Linked DNA regions of Homo sapiens. The protein of the gene in region 1 purifies or fractionates together with the protein of each later gene. This does not show direct contact. Each region holds a gene or a part of one and is shown on either strand. Other genes may lie near its edges. The genes, in order: MFSD2B, TNFRSF10B and ATP11C.

Evidence for each region.
Region 2: the proteins of MFSD2B (region 1) and TNFRSF10B purify together in Homo sapiens (affinity purification with mass spectrometry; one large-scale study listed by BioGRID and IntAct). This does not show direct contact.
Region 3: the proteins of MFSD2B (region 1) and ATP11C purify together in Homo sapiens (affinity purification with mass spectrometry; one large-scale study listed by BioGRID and IntAct). This does not show direct contact.

What each region holds. Positions count from the first base shown.
Region 1 is NC_000002.12:24,008,481-24,012,231, forward strand, and holds the start of MFSD2B (sphingosine-1-phosphate transporter MFSD2B), read left to right. Parts: upstream 1-1,604; 5' UTR 1,605-1,616; coding exon 1,617-1,712; intron 1,713-3,751.
Region 2 is NC_000008.11:23,062,506-23,066,156, reverse strand, and holds part of TNFRSF10B (tumor necrosis factor receptor superfamily member 10B isoform 1 precursor), read left to right. Parts: intron 1-3,651. UniProt on the Homo sapiens protein: Receptor for the cytotoxic ligand TNFSF10/TRAIL. The adapter molecule FADD recruits caspase-8 to the activated receptor.
Region 3 is NC_000023.11:139,786,429-139,790,079, reverse strand, and holds part of ATP11C (phospholipid-transporting ATPase IG), read left to right. Parts: intron 1-591; coding exon 592-753; intron 754-1,736; coding exon 1,737-1,888; intron 1,889-2,835; coding exon 2,836-2,907; intron 2,908-3,651. UniProt on the Homo sapiens protein: Catalytic component of a P4-ATPase flippase complex which catalyzes the hydrolysis of ATP coupled to the transport of aminophospholipids, phosphatidylserines (PS) and phosphatidylethanolamines (PE), from the outer to the inner leaflet of the plasma membrane.

The DNA.
Region 1 (3,751 bases):
TTGTTGGAATCGTTTACAGCACAAAGGTTTTCATTTTGAAAACTTTTGTAGTTCATCCAGCTTGTGCTTTTGGCGTCCTAAGAAACAATTGCCTGGCCCAATATGATGAAGAGTTGCTTCTGGGTTTTTTGTGTTTGGTTGGTTTTGTTTTTGTTTTTGTTTTTGAGACAGAGTCTCCCTCTGTCACCCAGGCTGGAATGCAGTGGCACGATCTTGGCTCACTGCAATCTCCGCCTCCCGGGTTCAAGCGATTCTCCTGCCTCAGCCTGCCGAGTAGCTGGGATTACAGGCATGAGCCACCGTGCCTGTCCCTTGCTCCTGTTTTTTCATAAGTTTTACATTCTAGGTCTATGATGCATTTTTAGTTAATGTGTACCCCTGTTACTGGTGGAAGGTATCTGAGTCACGTGGCACCAAAATATGTCAGCAGGAGTGAATCTATATGGGTCTGCAGCAACCTCAGTTCCTGCCTCCTCAGAAGAAAGAATTCCACTGAGGGGCATAAGGCAGAAGGAGAGACTGAGGCAAGTTTTAGAGCAGGAATAAAAGTTTATTAAAAAGCTCTACAGCAGAAATGGAAGGAAGGAAAGTACACTTGGAAGAGGGCCAAGCGGGTGACCTGAAAAAGAAGCGCACAGTTTGACCTTTTGACCTGGGGTCTTATGCATTGGCATACTTCTGGGGTCTTGCATCCCTTCTCCCCTGATTCTTCCCTTGGGAGGCCTGCCTGCATGGGCAGTGGTCTGCCAGCACTTGGGAGGGGAGTGTGCACACTGTGTATACTGGAGTTGTACCCATGCTCACTGGAGGCGTTCTTCCCTTACCAGTCCGGTGTCCTTCGAGGGTCACATGTCAGTTAAACTCCGCAATTTGTGTAAGCCCACTTGCCCAGCTCCTGAGATCTTACCGAGAAGCTGATCACCAGTTTCAGGTTTTCTCTATCTATTGGGAGACTGCCTTTCCCTGGCCCCGCTGGATCAATGATCATTTTAGAGGGAGCATAACAACCGCCTGACTGTCGCCTGATGGTTGCCTGACGTACCTGGTTGGAAGCGTGGCCCTCTCCTGCCCTTTTCGAGGCTGACTAGCTACCTGCTGTCACCCCCCTTCCCTTTTAAGGACTTTTCTGGAATGTTGGCCTGTGCCACCTGCTTTTATTCGCTGGCCAGAACTTAGTTACTGGCCATCCCCGTGGTCTGTATAGGAGACTCGACAATGTATATTTCAGGCGTTGGGCATCATGTGTAGCCGGCGGAATGCCTGTTCAGCCATGGTCCAGCCTGAACGAGCGGGCCTCTTGCTTCATTTTGCAGGGGAGCTGCTGCTTGCCCGCGGTCACCCCAGCGGTCTGGCGGAGCCCTTAGCGCGCAGGGCCGCCGTCTGCGGGCGCTCACGCCCCCGGGGATCCACCCCAAGGAGAACGGTCCTGAGGGCCTGCCGGGCCTTTCCCCCCGCGGATTTTGGTTCTTCGCTGTTTCCCTTTGGGGTGCCCTTCGCGGTTTCTGCGTTTCCCCCGCGTTGCCAGCAGCCACTCGCGCCGCGCCCCTAGCCCAGAACCGCCCCTCCCAAGGGCGATAACCCCGAGGGCAACGGCCGCGGGCGGCGCTGCGGTGGCAATGGCGGCGCCCCCTGCACCAGCCGCCAAGGGGTCCCCGCAGCCGGAGCCGCACGCCCCAGAGCCCGGCCCGGGGAGCGCCAAGCGAGGGCGAGAGGTGAGCGGGGCGGCGGGGACCGGGAAGGGGCTGCGTCCTCGGGGAGCTCCAGGGCGTCGCCTCGCAGCCCCTTTTCCAGCTGGGGGCAGCCCGGAGGGGCTCGGCCCAAACCTGCCAGCTCAGGGGCTGCCCTCGCGGGGTTACACGGCTGGGAGCGGGGAGGCTGGTAGGTGCCGGCGCCGGAAAGAGACTAGGACGGGAAGCCTAGCCCTAGCCAAGGAAGTAACTTGGGGATGCGTGGTCATTGCTGTCCTGATTCCCGGCTTAGGGGTCTTGTCCGTGCCACCGCAGGTCCTCCCGGGGTCCCCGAGCTCTGGGCAGGCAGGGCTTTCTGAAGCGCCTGGGGAGGCTGCGTCCTTCCCGACCTCAGGCAGCTGCTGTGGCCTCGGCCTCCCTCCCAGACCCTGGCCTCGCCCAGGCACCAGGCTCCCCTTGGAGGCAGCCTCAGGGAAGGTCCTGGCCATGGGCTCCGACAAGAAGGGAGGAGGGCAGGTGGGAGCGGCGGGGTCTTCGGGGCCCCTTGTCCCTTGCCCGATGCCGCCGGGCCGTGCTGGCCAGTGGGGCTGTGCTGGACGGAGCAAGGGGCCTGGGGCTTCCTGGGCCTCACTGAACGCGCCTGCTCCCTGCTCGTGCCCAGGGCATTCTGTGGCCTCCCCTGACCACCTCAGCCCCCAGCCTGTTCAGGGCTTCCTACGAGGCACCTGGGAGCACAGGATTGCATCCCACAAGAAAGTGAGGTGAGATGAAGGGGCTCTCCGGGGACTCTCACTTCCCAGGGAAACTTAGAAATTCAGGGTGAGATTAACAGCAAGAGGGAAACACTCGCATTGCTGATGAAGTTCCGGCGTGGAATCCTCTTACGACTCTCCGAGGGGTGGCAGCCCCGGTCACTCCAAGGAGACCGAGGTGCCCTGCCCTGGGTCACGCAGCTAGAGATAGCAGGGCTGCGCCCCTCGCCCGGAGCCGCCCCTCCCAAGGGGCTTCTCCTTGTACAGCTCACTGTACAGCTGTACCGGGCTTTTATGACTTTCGGTAAAACTGTCATCCTCAAGACGGCAAGATGGGATCATATCCCTGGCTTCACTTGGAAGTTCTTTCTAAAGTTCTAAAAACTTGCTAGGCCTGTTTTGGGGGATACAAGAGTCCCCATTAGGGGGAGAGGGGGACTGTCACGTTGAATTCTGCCTGTTCTTAAAGTTTTCTGGAAGCTGAAATGATGTTCACACAAATGTCAGAAAAGAATCATCCTGCCCCCAGTGTGGTTTTCCCCTGTGGGTAGGAAGAGTGTGCAAAGTGTGATAAACCCTTATCTGGGGAGACCTTCCCTTCACAAGAGCCTGCTGGGGTGTCCTGCAAGATGTGGAAATGGGTGAAGCCATGTCATCTCCACTCCCTCCAGCCCCCAGCAAACGATGAGAAAAGAGCCCAGCTTCTTCCAAAGAAACAGCACTTTACACAGGGTCTTCATGGCCATTTATTGCTTCAACGGATATATACTAAGCACCTACTGTATACCAAGCTTTGTTCTAGGTACTGGAAACACCATGATAAATAAAAGGTGGAGTTCATGCTCTCAGAGAGCTTACATTCCTGTAGGGAGAGGCAGGAACTAAATGAAAATATAGCAGGCGGTAAGTACAACTGAGAGAGGTGAGAGGTTAGGGAATGCCTCTTGGAGGAGGTGACATTTAAGCTGGTGACATCAAACCAGAATGACAAGGAGTCACCTTCCAGGCAGAGGAATGGGAAGGGCAAAGGCCCTGAGGCAGCAACAGACTTGATGATTTTGAGGAATAGGAAGGAGCCCGGCGTGGCTGAAGGAGAGCTATTTGAGGTGAGGTGGGTAGGGGGCCGACTGGGTGGACTCCTTAGCCATGATCAGGACTTGGAGTTTTATTCAAACTGCAATGGTATTGACTGAATACCATGGATCTGGAAACAAACAAACAAACAAACAAAACACACACACACACACACACACACACACAAAAACAGACAAAAAAACCCTGCAATAGCAAGCCATTGGAGAGTTTTAATCA
Region 2 (3,651 bases), on another chromosome or scaffold:
CACTTGCAACCACACCTGGCTAATTTTTGTATTTTTAGTAGAGACGGGGTTTCACCATGTTGCCCAGGCTGGTCTCAAACTCCTGCGCTCAAGGAATCCTCCCACCTTGTCCTCCCAAAGTATTGGGATTACAGGCCTGAGCCACCGTGCGCAACCTATGATTTTGGTGGTGGTGTTTTTTGTTTTTCTGTTTTTTAAATATTCTTGAGTATATTTGTAAGCTTTAGATGACCTGTTTTAAGTTATTTAATCTATCAACACCATTATATCTGTTATTACGGCCACTGTTTCTGTTGATTACATTTTTTTTCCTGCCCATAGGGACTTTTTTTTTCATGCATAGTAATTTCTTATTGCTTGACATTGTGAATTTTGCTTTCTTGGGTACCGAACATCACTGTGTTCTTTCAAAGTCTATTGGGCATTATTCTGGTCACAGAAAACTGAGGATCAGTTTGCTCCTCTGATACTAGCTTTTATCTACATATAACTATATACCTTGTGTTCAGTTGCCTTATTCAGGGGCTCATTTAGTTAACTACTAAAGTTATAGTGGTTGACTTCTGATGGTAACTCGCCAGCACCCTGGCATGCGTTCTGTCCACTGTGGGAAGGGGAACATGCAGATCTCCCAGCCCTGAGTGGTCCACAATCTAGTCTCTCCTTCCCTGGGTGGCTTCTTCTCAGGCACCTAGAGTCAGTCTCAGCAGACACTGGACATGTCTTCTGCAAGGATCCAGAGTCCTCCAGGCAGCTGCTTCTCCCAGTCTCTGCCCTGCACTTGGCCTCTGGGAGTTCCTGCCTGTGGTTCTCAACAGAGACTACAGAGCTCTACAGGGTCCTCTGCCCCTGCTGTAGCTGGAGGCTGTCCTTACGCAGTGAGCTGAGGCCACAGCTAGTCTCACTGCATGTGCTTGGCGGCGGGGACAGGAGTGATTCATTCATCAGGTAGAGGAGGAACCCTTTACTCTGGGAAAATCTGTGCCTGGGTTGGGGAAGGACAAATGAGCCCTGTGTGAATACTGACTACTCCCTGGAGCCCACAGTCTGGTGGAGCAGGTGACAGCAGGGACCTAAATAACTATCAGGAAGCATGAGGTCCCACCACTGTCACCTCCCCCACCTCCAGAGTGGCTGTGCTGGCTCCAGAGATGTCATCCCTCCATATTTGACTGACAGAGGGAGGCTGTGCAGTCCCAAGGCTCCAGGTCATGGTAGTTTGGCCAGGATAATATGGTTTGCTTAAAATCAACATTGAGGGTAATGATCGTACTAATCAGAGCATGTGTTTAAAGTTCTGTGTTTTAAGCACTTTCCATACATATTAACACTTTCAGTTCACACAACAACCTATGCAGGAACTGTGATTATCCTGGGCAGTTTTAAGGATGTGGGTGACTCAGAGAGGAAAGAAGAGGTTACTCGGGTTAATTTTTGACGAGAAATATTAGCAGGTTTTATGCTCAAACTTGGTGTAAAGCAAGGAGCCTGAATCACAGGTGGGTGAGTCACAAGACAGGGAAACCCCGCCAATGGCTCATGTCCGGGAGGAGGCAGGGTCCCTAGAATTCAATGGGACAAGAACTGAAATAAGCCAAACCCCTGACCTCCCTTCTTCTTGTTTTCCTTCTCTCTCTTAACCATGCCCATGGACACCCCCATGAGCCCATTTCTGTGGCCCAACACAGCTGTGCATCTCTGGCCACACGCCCATTCTCCCTCAATCAGAGAGGCCCACGGACGGCACAGCCTCGTCCTGCACAGCAGAAAGAGTGAATGGTGATGAATGGATCTATATTATTTCAACTCTCCTACATTTTGTAATCATATTACAATATTAATTCAGCAGTACCTCTCTTGTTTTTACTCCCCTCCCCCATTACACTGGATTCCTGTCTGTCTGGGATTCTGTCTGTGTGCACTCTTTCCTCTATGTCCACTACTGTCCCTGCCACCGATGGCATTTGTCACCTCTGCCTGGGCAGCCCCTCCAGACTCTTTGCAAGTTCATGGACTTTGGGGTTAATGATGGCTGTGCCTCAGCTCCTGTGAATGGAAACTGTGCTAAGGAAAGGAAGGGCCGTGCCATGTTCCCGATACTCCACGGCTCCTTGCATATGCGGTCGCCAGGCGCCTACATGCCTTCCATGAATGAATGAATGAGTAACGTGGATTCTAGGAAGCTGCACTAACCCAGACGTTGTGTCCTCAGCCTGCTCATAGAGTGTGTTAAACGTGAGAGGTGGGGAGTGTGGCAGGCAGGCTGAGGACAGAACAGAGGATCTGAATAGAGTACGGAGGATCACCCAAGTCCAGAGTCACCAAGGCCATTGTCAAGTTTTCCCCGGGGACATCCCTCATCAGATCCACCCATTAAAGATCATTGTTCACCCAGTGGAGAGTGGACTAGGTGGGTGCACTCAGGTGTGGCCTGGACAGCATTCGGGATGGGTCCTAGTGGTTAGGGTGAGGGTCAGGTTGCATTATCGTGAAGGAGGCAAGTGGCAGCTGAGGCAGATCTGAGGGAAATGATGATAACGCAGGCCGGTGATGCAATGGGTTTGGTAAGAAGAGGAAAGAGGTTTGTGGTGGATTCTAGTGTTTCTAATCTGAGACTTGGGTGAGGTCATTACCAAATAAGAAAGAGTAAATGGGCATAAATGGCTTTAAGAATTAGGAACCTGAATGTGCTATTGGAGACAGTATGGGCACGTCATTGCTCATAGACCTGCAGTACACAAAATGCTAAAAGATTTCAATCTGAATAGAGATGAAATGAAATGGAAACATGGATTTTTTTTTTTTTTTTTGAGACAGTTTCACTGTTGCTGCCCAGGCTGGAGTGCAATGGCGCAATCTCGGCTCACTGCAACCTCTGCCTCCTGGGTTCAAGCGATTCTCCTGCCTCAGCCTCCTGAACAGCTGGGATTACAGGCGCTTGCCACCACACCCAGCTAATTTTTGTATTTTTAGTAGAGACCGGGTTTCACCATGTTGGCCAGGCCAGTCTCAAACTACTGACCTCAGGAGATCCACCGCCTTGGCCTCCCAAAGTGCTGGGATTACAGGCATGAGCCACCTTGCCTGGCTGGGAACATGGATCTTAAGGAAAGAAGGAAGATCATCAGGAATAGAAATATGAATGCACATATAAAGAATGATTATTTCCTCTTAATTTCTTGAAAATATTCACTATCAAGTAATATAACACTTTGTAGGGTTTGTAACATATGAACATGCCTGAGACAACTATAGCAGAAAGAATGAGTAGTGGAGATGAATCAATCTGTATTATTTCAAGTCTCCTACATTTTATAATATTACCATATTAATTCTGCCATACAACTCAGTAATGAAAAGGAATGGAGTACTGATGCATATGAAAATATGACCGAATTTCAAAATAATTATGCTGAGTTAAAGAAACCAGACAGAAAAGCATATATAGTATCTGATTCCATCTATGATATTTATAGCCAGAAATGGTTTAATTAAAAAAGAAGAAGGATCTTAAATCAACGAGCTAAGTTTACAAATGTAGGAATTAGAAAAAGAATGAACCAAACCTAGAGTTAGCATTATAAAGGAAATAATTATTAGAAGAGAAATAAATAAAACAGAGAATAGAAAAACAGTAGAGGCCGGATGTGA
Region 3 (3,651 bases), on another chromosome or scaffold:
TGAGAAGCGTTCTTAGTTTGATAAAATAGTCACTTTTTTTTTTTTTTCCTGAGACAGAGTCTCACTCTATCACCCAGGTTGGAGTATAGTGATGTGATCTCAGCTCACTGCAACCTTTGTCTCCTGGATTCAAGCAATTCTTGTGCCTCAGCCTCCCAAGTAGCTGGGATTTCAGGTGTGTGCCACCACACCCAGCTAATTTTTGTATTTCTAGTAGAGACGGGGTTTCACCATGTTGGCCAGGCTGGTCTTGAACTCCTGAGCTCAAGCAATCCTCCTGCCTCAGCCTCCCAAAGTGCTGGGACTACAGGCATAAGCCACCGTGCCTGGCCAATAGTCACATTTTTTTCTATTCATCTTTTACATTTGAGTAGATCTACCTTAGACATGTGATAGCATTTTGGTGTCTTTAAAAATACTCATTTATTCCTCATTTCTTTGGTAATATTGTCTCTGTAATTCCCTGACATTTGACAAGAAGTCTTAGAAGGGGTGATTTCCTATGGATATGAAAATAGCTTTGCGTTACAGCAAACTAAAAATTAGTCACACTGAAGAAACTAACAATATATGTTTGTGTCCTTGTTTTAGGTGGATTATGTATTTACAGATAAGACTGGAACACTCACTGAAAACAGCATGGAATTCATTGAATGCTGCATAGATGGCCACAAATATAAAGGTGTAACTCAAGAGGTTGATGGATTATCTCAAACTGATGGAACTTTAACATATTTTGACAAAGTAGATAAGGTGCATTTGCATTATTGTTTTATATAAGAAACCAATCTGTGTATGCATGTTAACATTCCATAGTAGAAAATAATTTTTAGGTGGACACATGACATAGACTTTTGTGTTTTTGTTTTTTTTTTTTGAGATGGAGTCTCACTCTGTTGCCCAGGCTGGAGTACGGTGGCATGATCTCAGCTCACTGCAACCTCCGCTTCCCAGGTTCAAGCGATTCTCCTGCCTCAGCCTCCCGAGTAGCTGGGATTACAGGCGCCTGCCACCATGCCTGGCTAATTTTTTTGTATTTTTAGTAGAAACGGAGTTTCACCATGTTGGTCAGGCTGGTCTCAAACTCCTGACCTCAGGTAATCCACCACCCTCCGTCCCCCAAAGTGCTGGGATTACAGGCATGAGCCACTGTGCCCAGTGACTTTAGAATAACTATTGTTGGATTCACCTTTCTTGTTTTACTGACACTTCTGAAATTTGTAAATGAGTAGAATTTACAAGTAAAGAGAATTGTGGGAAATGACATTTGGGTAAAAGCTTGCTTGTCTGTATGATCATAATTTTTTGTGCTTTGTCTTTTAAAATGTAAGCTCCTCCAAGAATGATGTCTGTTCAAATGATTAAAGTCTCAGGAGTGTCTAGGCATTAAATTAACCAGAGTCTCCCTACACTTGAGCTATTGCTAGATTGTGAATTAGATACTGAATGAAGTTTTTTAGGCCATGAAGAAGTCACTGCTTTGGCTTAGGTGGTGCCACAATAACCTTAATGAGTTAACACAGCCTATAGGGTATGCTAGCTGAGAACCAGGAACTCTTATTAGGTACTAGGAGAATATATAGCAGATTTGAGTGTTAAGAATTTATACGTATCTGCTACTAAGTTTGTTAGAAGTTACAACATTCTCTCACATTAATATATTTTCTCCGTTCACTGCCTAGTTACCGGGTGATCAAATTAAAAATAATAATCATTATTTTGTTGCTGTTCCACAGAATCGAGAAGAGCTGTTTCTACGTGCCTTGTGTTTATGTCATACTGTAGAAATCAAAACAAACGATGCTGTTGATGGAGCTACAGAATCAGCTGAATTAACCTATATCTCCTCTTCACCAGATGAAATAGCTTTGGTGAAAGGAGCTAAAAGGTAAAGTATACTTTCTTATACTTCTCCTAAGAAAGTGAAATCACAGGAGGACAGAAGTTATTTGTTTTTTTCCGTTTGCTTCAGTGACCTTAGCACATACATCTCCTATTATTTAATAAAAAACACAACTGCTTTAGCCAAAAATTTGTGGAAAATTCCCACACCTAACCAGTTAAGACTAAAAAGAAAATAGTTACAGGTAGGTATTACTTGCCTTACTATTTATGCATGCCAGCCAGAAGTCTGAATGTTCATACTATGTTTTGCAAATAACATAACAGTGGCCACTTTTTGTACAACACATGTTATTTCTGAGGTGCTCCCAGCAATTTTGACATCATTTGAGAACCGAAAGTCCAGTTTTACCCATGAGGTTCAAGATAATTAAGTGGCTCAAAGGTCACCCAGTGTGTTAGCCGTAGAATCAGAAACCCAAATTGTCTCTCCCTTGGTTACAATAATTGTGGCTGGGCATTGACTTTCTCTGTTATCAACTTATCCAGGAAAAGAAAGTACAGTTATATGTTGAGATCATATGAAAGAGAAGAAAAGCATAAACAAGCATGAGTTACCCCATTGAAAGTAATCATTCTAGACCAGGTGCGGTGGCTCACGCCTGTAATCCCAGCACTTTGGGAGGCCAAGGCGGGTGGATCACCTGAGGTCAGGAGTTCAAGACCAGCCTGGCCAACATGGTGAAACTCTGTCTCTACTAAAAATACAAAAATCAGCCGGGTGTGGTGACACACACCTGTAATCTCAGCTACTCAGGAGGTTGAGGCAGGAGAATCGCTTGAAACTGGGAGGTGAAGGTTGCAGTGAGCCGAGATCGCGCCACTGCACTCCAGCCTGGGCAACAGAGCGAGACTCTGTCTCAAAAAAAATAATAATAAAAAAATTAATCATTCTTTAGAGATACACAAGGTCTTTTTTATTGTTTTTGATAGGTACGGGTTCACATTTTTAGGAAATCGAAATGGATATATGAGAGTAGAGAACCAAAGAAAAGAAATAGAAGAGTAAGTAGCTCTGTGTTTGATGTTTGTCATTTCTTAACCCCATAGTCAAATTTAAGTGGATTCAGGCAGGGCAGCAAAGGAAATGATGCCACTAAAAATACAGGACCCTGCTCTCCCAGTTCAGAGTTTTATGTAAATATAGTTGGGGTAGAAGCCATGTTACATAGAATTGCAGAAACTGGAGTTTGAGGTGGAAATTCCAATCTGGTTCACATCTGGGTCCAGTAGCCAGAATGAGAGTTTGCCTGGAATGTTTCTCAAATTTAGATGCCATTTCAGGTCTCTAACACATGCTACAGGAAAAATCAGTGAATATATGTGAAACCTTCTGCTATCTAGTGTCCAAGCAATCACTCTGGGATTGCAAGCCCAGGCAATAAAGGCAGCTTTGCTGTAAACCAGAAGCCTTGTTTGGTTCGGAATGTTCAGGTGTGAGCCTCGGGGCAAGTACTCTGATGCTCCAGTGTCTTCACATTTCCTCTTTTGCCACAAAGACCCTAATGAACAAAGCCACCTTATCTTAATGGTGGATTTTAATTAGGCTCTGTGATTAATTTGAATTTCCTCATCTGAACTTGAAATATAATTATGTTATCTGACTTTCATTCTGGCCCCTAGGATCTCCTGAGACCCATCTCAGAAACCTGTAATATGTTTACAGGTACTTGGGTAATGCACCCTTTTGGAGAGAGATTCATAGAAGCCCAGAGGAAGGTTCTTGGTCTGACTGACAGGGACCCAGGG